Linked DNA regions of Homo sapiens: region 1 is linked to region 2. Evidence: fine-mapped expression QTL. Tissue or cell type: whole blood. Region 2 holds a variant in brackets; the other region holds the start of a gene. All regions are shown on one strand. Distances are from middle to middle.

The links. PIP is the estimated chance that this variant, and not a neighbour inherited with it, causes the effect.
Region 1: it holds the start of ADGRL1-AS1, and the variant in region 2 is fine-mapped to the expression of ADGRL1-AS1 in whole blood (TOPMed, PIP above 0.99). The same link has a PIP of 0.9 or more in gastroesophageal junction, lung, subcutaneous fat, sun-exposed skin and tibial nerve.

The regions. Positions count from the first base shown.
Region 1 is chr19:14,134,080-14,140,037 of GRCh38, reverse strand. ADGRL1-AS1 (ADGRL1 antisense RNA 1) reads right to left here and starts at 2,886. Exons shown (of 3, transcript NR_045214.1): 1 at 2,815-2,886. ASF1B (anti-silencing function 1B histone chaperone) reads left to right here and starts at 3,449. Exons shown (of 4, transcript NM_018154.3): 1 at 3,449-3,690. The coding sequence starts at 3,582. RefSeq lists enhancers at 2,804-2,963, 2,460-3,086, 3,164-3,303 and a silencer at 3,634-3,683.
Region 2 is chr19:14,182,433-14,188,311 of GRCh38, reverse strand. It overlaps ADGRL1 (adhesion G protein-coupled receptor L1), which reads left to right. Exons shown (of 23, transcript NM_014921.5): 2 at 4,615-4,779. The coding sequence starts at 4,710. Among named protein-coding and RNA genes, the nearest start is that of ADGRL1, 21 kb to the left of the region's middle. The variant T/C (reference allele first, on the strand shown) is at 4,040.

The DNA of each region.
Region 1 (5,958 bases), 48 kb after region 2:
CTTAGGTTTCATTCTAAGTAGGATAAGCCTCTGAAGGTTTTAAGCAGAGTAATGACATGATCTGGTTTACAAGTGAAGATCATTCAGCCAGCTGTAAGGAGAATGCATCATAGACAGGGCCACATTCTTCATTAGCGCCACGGAAATAATGCTGGTGGATCATGAGCTTCTCAGGGGCTACGAAAAGGTCAGGGACAGGGATAAAGGGAAAAAAGTTCCACAATGCAAAGAGAAAACTACAAAGTTGGAATGAATAAATGTTTAATTAAGCATCTAGAAATGTGACATCATGACAACTGCATTAATCATTAAATTTAGTATTCATAAGCAATCGAATTACATTTGGAAATTAGATTTTCTCAAATCACAAATATCCCTAAGTATGCAATGATTGCCAAGAAATCAAGCGAATCATAAATGTGAGTTTCCTTGAAGCCAAATAATTTCAAAAGAATAAAAACAAAGCTTTCGATTTTTTAACAGCTAAAAAGAATTTTTCTTAACTTAATGTGAGATGTAGATACCAAAAATGGGCTAGGCGCTGTAATCCCAGCACTTAAGGACAAGATAGGTGGACTGCTTGAGGCCAGGAGTTTCAAGACCAGCCTGGGCAACAGCGAGACCCTGTCTCTACAAAAAATTTAAAAAGTATAAGAGGCAGGGCACGGTGGCTCATGCCTGTAATCTCAGCACTTTGGGCGGCCGAGGTGAGTGGATCACCTGAGGTCAGGAGTTTGAGACCAGCCTGGCCAACATAGTGAAACCCCATCTTTACTAAAAATACAAAAATTAGCTGGGTAAGGTAGCGTGTGCCTGTAGTCCCAGCTACTCGGGAGGCTGAGGTGGGAGAATCGCTTGAAGCTGGAAGCAGGAGGTTGCAGTGAGCTGAGATTGCGCCACTGCATTCCAGCCTGAGTGACAGAGCAAGACTCCCTCTCAAAAAAAAAATAAAATAAAATAAAACAAATTAGGCATGGTGGCACGCACTGGTGATCCCAGCCACTCGGGAGGCTGAGGTGGGAGGATCACTTGAGCCCAAGAGTTCCAGGTTATAGTGAGCCACGATTATGCCACTTGCACTCCAGCCTGGGCAACAGACCTCTATTAAAAAAAAAAAATCCCACAGGAACTGGATTGTTTAAAAAGAAAAGGAAAAGGAAAACATACTAGCACAGTGAGTGAGTCCTAGTGAGCCCACAGAGGTGACTGGGTAAGAAATACTAGTGCCTTGGCTCAGTGCTGTTCAGGCGTACGGCCTGTGAGTTTGAACACTGTCCAGAGCACCCTTAGAAAGGCCTCTCTGGGGAGAGGACATTTGAACAGAGACTTGAATGACAAGAAGGCATAAGCCATGCCAAGAGCCTAGGAGAAGAGGTTCTGGGCAGAGGCTTTGCACTGGGAGTGGCTTGTCAGAATTTTAACAAAAAGAGGGTTACTTAGCCTGGTTTGAAGTTGGAGCTGGGTGGTTAACAGGAGACAAAGCATAGAGTTTCAAAGACAATGCTCTCATCCGGAGAAGTGACCTGGTCAAATGTGTTTCTGACCTTCGCTGTCCAGTAATACAGGAGCCACTTGTCACACGGGCTCAGGAGCACTCAACTGCGGCTATCAAGACAGCTAAACTGAACTTTCTTTTTTAAAATTTAATTTTAATTTTTAGAGACAGGGTCTCACTCTGACACTCAGGCTGGAGTGCAGTGGCTGGAGCATTCTGGGCTCAAGAGATCCTCCTGCCTCAGCTTCAGGAGTAGCAGACACTACAGGTATGCACTACCACACCTGGCTTATTCTTTTATTTTTTGTAGATATGAGGTCTTGTTATGTTGCCCAGGCTGATCTTGAACTCCTGGCCTCAAGAAATCCTCCATGACCAGCCTCTAAAATTACAAATAATAATAAAAAAAGATATGGCCGGGCACAGTGGCTCACGCCTGTAATCCCAGCACTCTGGAAGGCCGAGGCGGGCGGATCACTTGAGGTCAGGAGTTCGAGACCAGCCTGGCCAACATGGTGAAACCCCGTCTCTACTGAAAATACAGAAAAAAAATTAGCTGGTTGTGGTGGTGGGCACCTGTAATCCCAGCTACTCAGGAGGCTGAGGCAGGAGAATCGCTTGAACCCGGGAGGTAGAGGTTGCAGTGAGCCGAGATCGCGCCATTGCACTCCAGCCTGAGTGACAGCGCGAGATTCCATCTCAAAAAAAAAAAAGTGGCTTCCAAAAAATGTTAATTTTACACCTAATTTTGGTGCGCGGCTGGCATTATTTTTCCACTGGGCAGCACTGATCGCCCGTGGGGGCAGAGACTCTGAGACCTGGAGTCTCCCAGGCCGGGGGCGACGGCCCAGACGGGAGGCGGTGGAGAGAAGTTTCCGGATGTATTATGTGGTCATGAATCATGTCAGGGAATTGCCACGGCCCCCGTTGAATGGGGAGGCGCTGCCTCGGGCGCTGAGTAGCAGAGCCCGGACTCTGAACACTGGTCTGCCCCCGAACTGGAACTCCCATTTTCAGTACCGTCCGCTTGAAACCTCCCAAGAGCCCTCAAGGGGGCGAGAGAGGGATCCAAACCCCTCGGGGGCGAGAGCGGGATCCGAACCCCTCGGGGGCGAGAGCGGGATCCGAACCCCTCGGGGGCGAGAGCGGGATCCGAACCCCTCGGGGGCGAAAGCGGGATCCGAACCCGGCCGGATTCCCGAGGTCTGAGCGCGCCTCGTGACCGCCACTCCGAACGTTCGCAACGTTCACAACGGACTCCCGCGCCGCTGGACCTCAAGGGTCAGGAGCCACTCAGAAAAGCTCCAGGAAACGCTCACCTGTTGACAGACGCTGAGGCCGCAAACGCTCCTCCTCTCTCTTCACACTCGCCAACACCGCGGTGGCGCTCGACTTCCGCTTCTCTCCAGCGAATCCCCAGCTGAGCCTCCTTCTGCTCCCGCCACCATTACCAATCCAGCCAATAAACTCTCAGAAAACCCTCTTTATCTCCGCCCCACTCCCTCCTGCCAATCACTTCGGGTGCGAGCACCGCCCTTCCCGCCTTCTTTAGCGAGCGCCGCGCGCCACCGCTCGGCGGGTGGCGGCGCTGCGCGCTGCGGGATGCATCTCCCGGAAAAGCGAGGCGAGGGGCGGGCCACGCCGGTGCGGGAACCCTCAGGATTGGCCAGAAGGAGGCCGGCGCTGTGACTCCGTCCATTCCCGCCGTTGACATCCAAGTCGGAGACGCTGGGGATTGGTTTCCAGCGGACACGCTAAGAAGCTTGGAGATAGTTTCGCCCTCCTCACACGCTGCGGAGAGGGAGCTCCGCTGATTGGTCCGAGGAGTCTGGGCGCGCGCCGATCGGCGCTCCAGGACTGGCTGAGGGGGTGCGCGCGCCGCCAGGGAGCGTTGGCGGTGATTGGCCAGAGGGCGGAGGCCGGCTATTTGAAGGCGGCGCGCGGACTAGGTGCGCACTTCAGTTCTCGGAGAGAAGAGGCGGGAGTGGACCTGGTCAGCCCTACCCCACTGACCCCACCGGACCCAGGCGCGGCCTCCGCCACAGCCACAGCCCCTGCCCCTGCTGCGGCGCGGCGAGGCGAGGCGATGGCCAAGGTGTCGGTGCTGAACGTGGCGGTCCTGGAGAACCCGAGCCCTTTCCACAGCCCCTTCCGGTTCGAGATCAGCTTCGAGTGCAGTGAAGCCCTGGCGGACGGTGAGGCTGGGCCTGTGCGGGGACCCCCACCCCCGGGCCGACCCCGGCCTCCCCTCAGAGAACCGCTCCCATGGCCAACTTGATCTCCCCCATGAAACCCCTCGTCCCCCTTCCGCCAACCCCGATCTCCCCCAGCCCGCCAGTCAACCGGATCTCCCGGTGGAGACCCCCCGCCACCAGCCAACACGGACCTCCCCGTGACCTCCTCCCCCACTGCCCGCCTTGACCTCCCGGGTGGAGACCCCCCGCCAGCTAACTCGGACCTCCCAGTGGCCTCTTCCCCCACTGCCCGCCCCGACCTCCCCATAGAGATTAACCCCCTCCAAGCCCCATTTCCCGCGTGGGGAACCTCATCCATCTTTTTTCTCTGGAGCTCTTCCTAGGTACCCGTTTTCATGGGGAGACCTTCTCGGCCTCCATTTCTTAACCCACGGAGATCTTCAGCCACCGTGGTTTCCCTGTGGCAAGACCCCCGCTTCAACCACCCACCCATTTTTGCCCACTTATTCCCTCTTTCCTGTAGTGAGATACTCACACCTCCCATTTTCCCTCTGGAGACCCCCAATATCCAGCCCCTTCCCATTTTCCCCGGGGGAAATCCCAGCCATCTCCTATTTTCCCTATGGAGACCTCTCACCCAAGCTCCTCTCTCCTTGCCGTGAAGACCCTCCCCTCCAGTAACCTTTTTTTCCTGTGAAAACCCCTCAACCCCTTTTCAGGACCTCTCTCAACCCCATCTTCCCATTTGTGTCCCACCAGTCCCCTCCCCAACCTGCCAATATTTCAATAACCCCACGCCCACCAGTTGCTGCCGCTTTTCTGCCCCAATGCACATACCCTGGAACCTGGTTTCTCTCCTTCGTTGGGGCCCAACCCCCCTATGCTTGAGCTCTCCCTGGGAAAGGATGCTACCGTCTTTGAGGGGAACTTTGTCTCCCCAGCTCCCCTTCCCCACCTTTCTCTGTGGGCTTGGATAAACACACTGAGATCCGAGGGGTGGCATAGCCAGGCAGGCATTAGCTAGTTCTCCAGGTTTGCCCACCCGTTTCCAGCTGAGTTACTGCAGCAATTTTTCTGTCACTTTTTCTTTCTTCTTCTTCCTCTTCTTTTTTTTTTTTTTTTTTTTGAGACAGTCTCACTCTGTTGCCCAGGCTGGAGTGCAATGGCACGATCTCGGCTCACTGCAACCTCCACCTCCCGAGTTCAAGCGATTCTTCTGCCTCAGCCTCCCGAGTAGCTGGGACTACAGGCGCCTGTCACCACGCCCAGCTAATTTTAGTATTTTTAGTGGAGGCAGCGTTTCACCATGTTAGCCAGGTTGGTCTCGAACTCCTGACCTCAAGTGATCCACCCGCCTTGGCCTCCCAAAGTGCTGGGATTACAGGCGTGAGCCACCGTGCCCCGTCTTCTTCTTTTTTTTTTTTAATATAGCTGGATAATCAGTGCCAAGCTCCCGTTGCTTTTGATGGTCTGACCTAGTCTGGGGGGTGGGTGGATTGGGCTGAGCTGTGACGGGCTCCAGCTTCAAACAGTCGGCTGGAGCTTGGAGGTCACAGCCTCCTGTACATCTTTTCCAAGGTGCTTCCGTAGATGTACTTATTAATCTGTGTGACTTAAAGGTGGGCATGGCTCTCATCTCACAGATGAGAAGACAGGAGCCACAAAACGCAAAAGACCTTTCAAGTCAAGGCCTGTACAAATCCAAAATCTAAGGTCACCTAGGGAGCCTTGGCACCACTAACAGGCAAGTCCTGCTTTCAGGAAGAAGTACTCCATTAGGCCATTTTTCTACTTGGTGGTTGAAAGAGAAAAGGCAGCAGCCGAGGAGGTGGTGATCTGGGGGCCTGTGAAGCCAGGATATGCTAACTAGTGCCTCTCGGGGGCAGGTAGGTGTTTTGCCCTCAAAGCTGGTCGCCTGGACTAGCTTGGAGCTGATAGAGTGAGATGTGGATGTGCTTTGGGTAGGCCAGTGGGTCTGTCTCTCCCCGGTCTCTCTCGCTCCTTTTTAAATTAAGGAGTCTACTTGTGGCTAACTATAGAATATGCCGAGTTAAATCCTTTCTGGAACAAGGCAGCGGGTAAATAAATAAATAAAGTGTAGAATGACGCTGTGGAATAAGATTTAATTTAAAAGCCAGGAGGAGATGGAAGGAAGTAATAGGTTGAGGGATTCCCAGCTCCCCGACGGCAGGAGATCAGGTTTCAATCAGCCTGTTTGTGTTCCTTGCATTTAAAAATGGTTGTGGCCGAGCGCGGTGGCTCACGCCT
Region 2 (5,879 bases):
ATTGGCCCAGCGTGTACGTGTACTGCTCTCCTTACCAGAACCCTGCAGAATAGCAGCGCAGAGGGAACCAGGGCCAGGGAGGTGAGGAGACCAGCTCAAGGTCACACAGGGCATGTATAAGGCAAAATTGGGATCTAGACCCATGTGGATTCGCTGCCCACACAATTTGGCATCGAGTGGCTTCCCTGCCATTTATTTATTTATTTATTTTTATTAAGAGAGGGTCTTGCTCTGTTGCCCAGACTGGAGTGCAGTGGCAGGATCATAGCTTACTGCAGCCTTGCAAACTCCTGGGCTCAAGTGATCCACCCACCTTAGCCTCCCAAAGCACTGGGATCACAGGCACGAGTCACCGTACCAAGCCAGCCATTTTTACTCCCTCTAACCAGTTCCTCTGCTCGGATGCCTGTTGCAGTGGGAAAGAAAGCGCTTGGAGACCCTGGGAGGGGAGTATCCTCAGCTTGGGGACACTGCCTCCCCTGAACCTTTCTGTGGCTGGGCAGTTGGGGGAGAAATGAGGAAGTTGAAATAAGGAAGCCACTCCCCATTCCCAAGGTAACATGCTGGAAAATGATTTGAAAGTGACACCGGCCATGTCTAGTCACAGATGTGGGGGAGATGCGGATAGGGGCTGGTGGCGGCGGCGGGGTAACACGCTGTAAAATCATCTGAAAGTGACACTGGCCGTGTCTAGTCAGGGATGTGGGGGGAGACGCGGTTGGGGGCTGGAGGTAGCTGGGGGGGATTTACTGAAGAAGCTGGGGCAGTGGAGAGGGAGCTGGTATCGGGAGTGGGCATGAGAGGGGAAGCGGGCAGAGAGCTACAGGGCTGGAGAGGGGGTGTTCAGGGCTGTCTTGCAGATATTATCTTCCCATTTCCCACGTGAGGAGACTGGGGTCTGGACCAGGTGTCCTGCCCTGTGGGGATCTTTATTTATTGAGGGCCTGTGCCGATTTGTTTTATTTATTTATTTTTGAGACAGTCTGGCTCTGTTGCCCAGGCTGGAGTGCAATGGCACAATCTCAGCTCACTGCAACCTCTACCTCTCAGGTTCAACCAGTTCTCGTGCCTCAGCCTCCCGAGTAGCTGGGATTACAGGCACCCGCCACCACGCCCGGCTAATTTTTTGGTATTTTTAGTAGAGATGGGGTTTCACCATGTTGGCCAGGCTGGTCTCGAACTCCCACCTCTGGTGATCCACCCGCCTCGGCTTCCCAAAGTGCTGGGATTACAGGCACGGGCCACCGTGCCCAGCCGTGTGCTGATTTGTAAGGGCCTCTCTCAAGAAGCTCGTGTTGATAAAAAGGTAATTTCAGGTGCTCACTTGAGAGCTGTGAATTAAAAACAGGGAAAAGGATGGCGGGTGAGGGCAGCAGGCGAGGACTGTTTTGTTTGCAGGGGGTCAGGGTAGGTCACTCTGCTGGGGTGACCTTGCGGCTGAGCCCTGAACAATGAGCAGCCGCAGCCGACATGCAGGGATCCTGCTTGGGGACTGGAACTGGAATGTTGAATGTTTCAGGAACAGGAGGGAGGACAGAATGGGGCTTGGAGAGCTTGGTGGCACCAGTTCACCCACAGCCTCTGGGCTCTAGTGAGGAACTGAGACCCCAGCAGAGACCAGGGGGTCAGTTAATGTTCGGATCAACATCATCATGTGGTCCCTTAGCTCTGAGTGAAGGGCGGATTGGGAGGCGGGCAAGGAGGCCAGGACAACATACAGGTGACATAGGATGGTGCATGGGCCTGGGTGCTGTGCTTAGAGCCAGAAGTGGGCAGGTCGCGAGGTACTTCAGAGGCAGAGCCCACAGGAGTTGCTGATGGCTTCCGTGAGGGGGATGACAGGGAAGGTGAGGAATCAAGGCAGAGTCTCAGCTTTGGGATCTGAGATTCATTCAACAAATAATTAATTCATTGCCACGTGCCAGGCCTATTCTAAAAGTTGAGGATATGAAGACAACAGTGGTGATGGCCTCACGCAGTAATCCCAGCACTTTGGGATGTTGAGGCAGGAGGATCTCTTGAGGCCAGAAGTTCATGTTCAGCCTGGGCAACATAGCAAGACCTCATCTTTGCAAAATAAAATAAATTAGCTGGATGTGATGGTGCATACCTGTGGTCTCAGCTACTAGGGAGGCCGAGGCGGGAGGATCACTTGAGCCTGGGAGGTGGAGGCTGCAGTGAGCCATGATTTCACCACTGCACTCCAGCCTGAGTGACAGAGCAAGACCCTATCTCTAAAAAAATAAAAGTAAATAAAAGTTGGGGATACGGCCACCATGAGCAAAACAGTTCAATGATCCCTGCCCCATGAAGAGGACATTCTATACACCAGGTGAATAGTTCTATCTGAGCAGAGGCCTGAAGGAGCCAGCCATGTGGACAGTGGGTTGGCAGAAGCTACAGGTGGAGGAAGCAACAGGTGCAAAGGCCCTGGGGCAAGGCCTGCTGTGGTCCAGGAATAGCAGGAGTGGCTGGAGCAGAAATGGGGTCAGGGAGCTAACTGGGCCAATTACAAGGGTTTTGGTTTTCAGCAGGGAAATGGTAGTGGGGGCTCTGATGAGAGATTCCAGGCTGGACATAAGAGATTTGAAAGTGCTGGCTCAATGATGGTACTGAGAGCCCAGGACAGCCTGAGATGGGACAGGCTGGGATGACAGCTGGATATGACAGAGCAGGGGTTCCCACGCTTCAGGGCCTGCCTCAGAGAATGTGTGTTTCTGGCCAGCACAGTGGCTCACGCCTGTAATCCCAGCACTTTGGGAGACTGAGGTGGGAGGATCATTTGAGGCCAGGAGTTCAAGACCAGCTTGGGCAACATAGCAAGATCCTGTCTCTATAAGACATTTTAAAATTAGCTGGGCGTGGTGGCGAGAGCCTGTGGTCCCAGCTACTCGAAAGGCTGAAGTAGGAGCATCACTTGAACCCAGGATCTGGAGGTTGCAGTGAGCCGTCATTGTGCCACTGTACTCCAGCCTGGGCAACAGAGCAAGACCCTGTCTCTTAAAAAAAGAAAGAGAGAGAGAGAATGTGTGTTTCTACCAAGTTCCTGGCAAGGCTGATGCCAGTGTGCTGGGACCACACCTGGAGAACCAGGGTGTAGATAAAGCAAAGAGCTGAGGACAGACATTTGAGCGTGCAAGCCTGAGAGGATTTGGGGAGACTGAGGCGGGGAGAGAGGTGAGAAGGAGCAGCCATAAGGCAGGAAGAAACCAGTTAGAACCGAGTCCTGGACTGGGCACAGTGGCTCACTCCTGTAATCCCAAAGTTTTGGGGGGCCCAGGCAGGAAGATCCCTTAAGCCCAGGAGTTTGAGATCAGTCTGGGCAACATAGCAAGACCTCCTCTCTGCAGCAAATTTAAAAATTAGCTGGTGGTGCTGGGCGCTGTGGCTCACGCCTGTAATCCCAGCACTTTGGGAGGCCGAGACGGGCGGATCACGAGGTCAGGAGATAGAGACCATCCTGGCTAACACGGTGAAACCCCATCTCGACTAAAAATACAAAAAATTAGCCGGGCGTGTTGGTGGGTGCCTGTAGTCCCAGCTACTCGGGAGGCTGAGGCAGGAGAATGGCGTGAACCCAGGAGGCGGAGCTTGCAGTGAGCTGAGTCTGTGCCACTGCACTCCAGCCTGGGGGACAGAGCACGACTCCGTCTCAGAAAAAAAAATAAATAAATAAATAAATAAATAAATAAATAAATAAATAAAATAAAAATTAGCTGGTGGTAGTGGTGCAAGCCTGTGATTTCAGCTACTTGGGAGGCTGAGGTGGGAGGATTCCTTGAGTCTGGGAGGTTGAGGCTGCAGTGAGCTGTGATTATATCATTGCACTCCAGCCTGGGCAACAGAGTGAGACCTGGTTTCTAAAATTTAAAAAAATAATAATAATGAAAAAAAAAACTGAGCCGCTGTGCCTGGGGACAGAGCAGGTGGGGAGGATGGCAGGGGACAGCACACAATTCTCACCCCTCCCCCATCTCCCCTGGCCCCCCCAGAGGGGGAGGCAGTGTCCGCCTCCCACCCCGCCTGCCTGTCTCCAGCT[T/C]ACCCTGAAGGTCCCCCAGAGAGGAAAGAGGGGACTCGGGCGTCCCTGGTTCCCGATCTGTGGCGCCAGCTGGATTCTAATTAGCCACCAGAGCTTGAGAGACAGGAAGCAGGGGGCTGGGGGCGGGGGCTTGGATTTCTGCCCAAGACGGGGAGGCTGCAAGTTGGGTTGCAATGAGTCCCTCACTTGGGAGGACACTCATTACCTCCTTGCTCATGGTGAGGATGCGAGTAGGGGAGATGAGTGGGCAGGGTCAGGACAGGGGCATGGGGAAGAGGCTTCCAGAGGGTCCAAGGCCTGCCTGGGATCTCCCCGTGAGCTGTCCCAGGAGGTTCCAGTGGGGAAGAGTTGGCAGTCTCTTTGCCCAGAGGTGCCCAGATAGCTGGGTCTGGCTGCTGGGTGTAAGGGTGGGGGGTGTGGTGTGAGCTGCAGACCCCGGAGGGGGCCCTACAGATAGGGCTGGCTCGAGGGACGTGCTGGACCTCAGCCTCTCAGAGCTACTCAGCCACCAGCAGGAGGAGAGGGGAGCGGCCTGGAGGCCCTATCCCCACCTCAGTCTCCCTGTCCTCCCCCAGGCTGGTGGTCCAGGCCGTGGTGCCTGCCAGGTGATGTGGGGCAAAGCCCCCCGCACAGGCCACTGAGAGCTCCGGACACGCACCCGGCTGCCACCATGGCCCGCCTAGCCGCAGTGCTCTGGAATCTGTGTGTCACCGCCGTCCTGGTCACCTCGGCCACCCAAGGTAGGTGCTGCTGGGGCCGGGGAGGGGCCGCGGCTCCCAAACCCTTCTGGGGGGGGCAGATAAAATGTTGAAAACCCTCCTGATCACTCAGTAAAGAATTACAGCCCCCTGCCCCGCCCCAGACCTCAGCTGGAGCAGGCCAGTGGAAGACTCAGGGGTAACACACACCCCAGTGCCACCAAGAGGCCCCTGGACCATCCTCTTACCTCCAACAAGTCGGCTGGGCCAGGTTGGTAGGGGCCATCCCGCTGTGGCCCCTGGGACCAGGACAGGCCTTCTTGGTGAGCCGATGCTCCTCTCTCTGTCTCTCTCTCGCTCTCTCTCTCTCTCTCTCTCTCTGTGATTACATCTTCGAGGCTCTCACTGGGAAGAAGGCTTAATTAAAGCATGCCCGCTGACGTTTATTTAAAAACAACTAATTACCCGGCTCGGCCCTATGCCGGCCCTAGGATCCTGCACACGCCACTATTAGTGCCCCAAGCCTGCCCGCCCACCCTCACCGATTACTCGATTACTGGCCCCGTGACCAGCCCAGGCCGGGGGCAAGGGCGGGATAAGGTGAGAGGCCAAGAGAAGAGGCCAGTAGGCCCGGCCCCTCACTCTGGGATGTGCCCCCTGCCCACCCCGACATCCCTGTATGAAGGGCATTGGCGGGTGACTCTGCTCCCTCTGGCCCTGCCCTCTGGAAAGCTCCAAAGGTTGAAGGGACACGGTTCAGCTGGGCCCCAGGGCCTTGGCACTGCCCCGCTGGCCAGCAACCTCACTCCTCTGCTGCTACGTTCTCTGCCCATCCAGGTCCTGCCCCATAGCCCCAGCTGGGCCGGGAGGGCTGCCTCCACCCCCAGACCCATCTGAGCCAGCCTTCCACCCCCGGCCCTCCCTCCCAAGCCCGGGAAGGCTAAAATTAGATGAGGAGGCAGATGGTGCTGGAGGAACACATGTGAAATGTTCCCCCCGCTGGGACTCAACTCACCCCAAAAAACCCCAAGGGCCTCCCTGCCATACCCCTGGGGTACCCACCCAGATCTCTGGAAAGGCTCAGCTCTGTCACCGTCCCGCACGAGTGCCCTCCCGAAACCTCGTACAGCAGGTGGTCACTT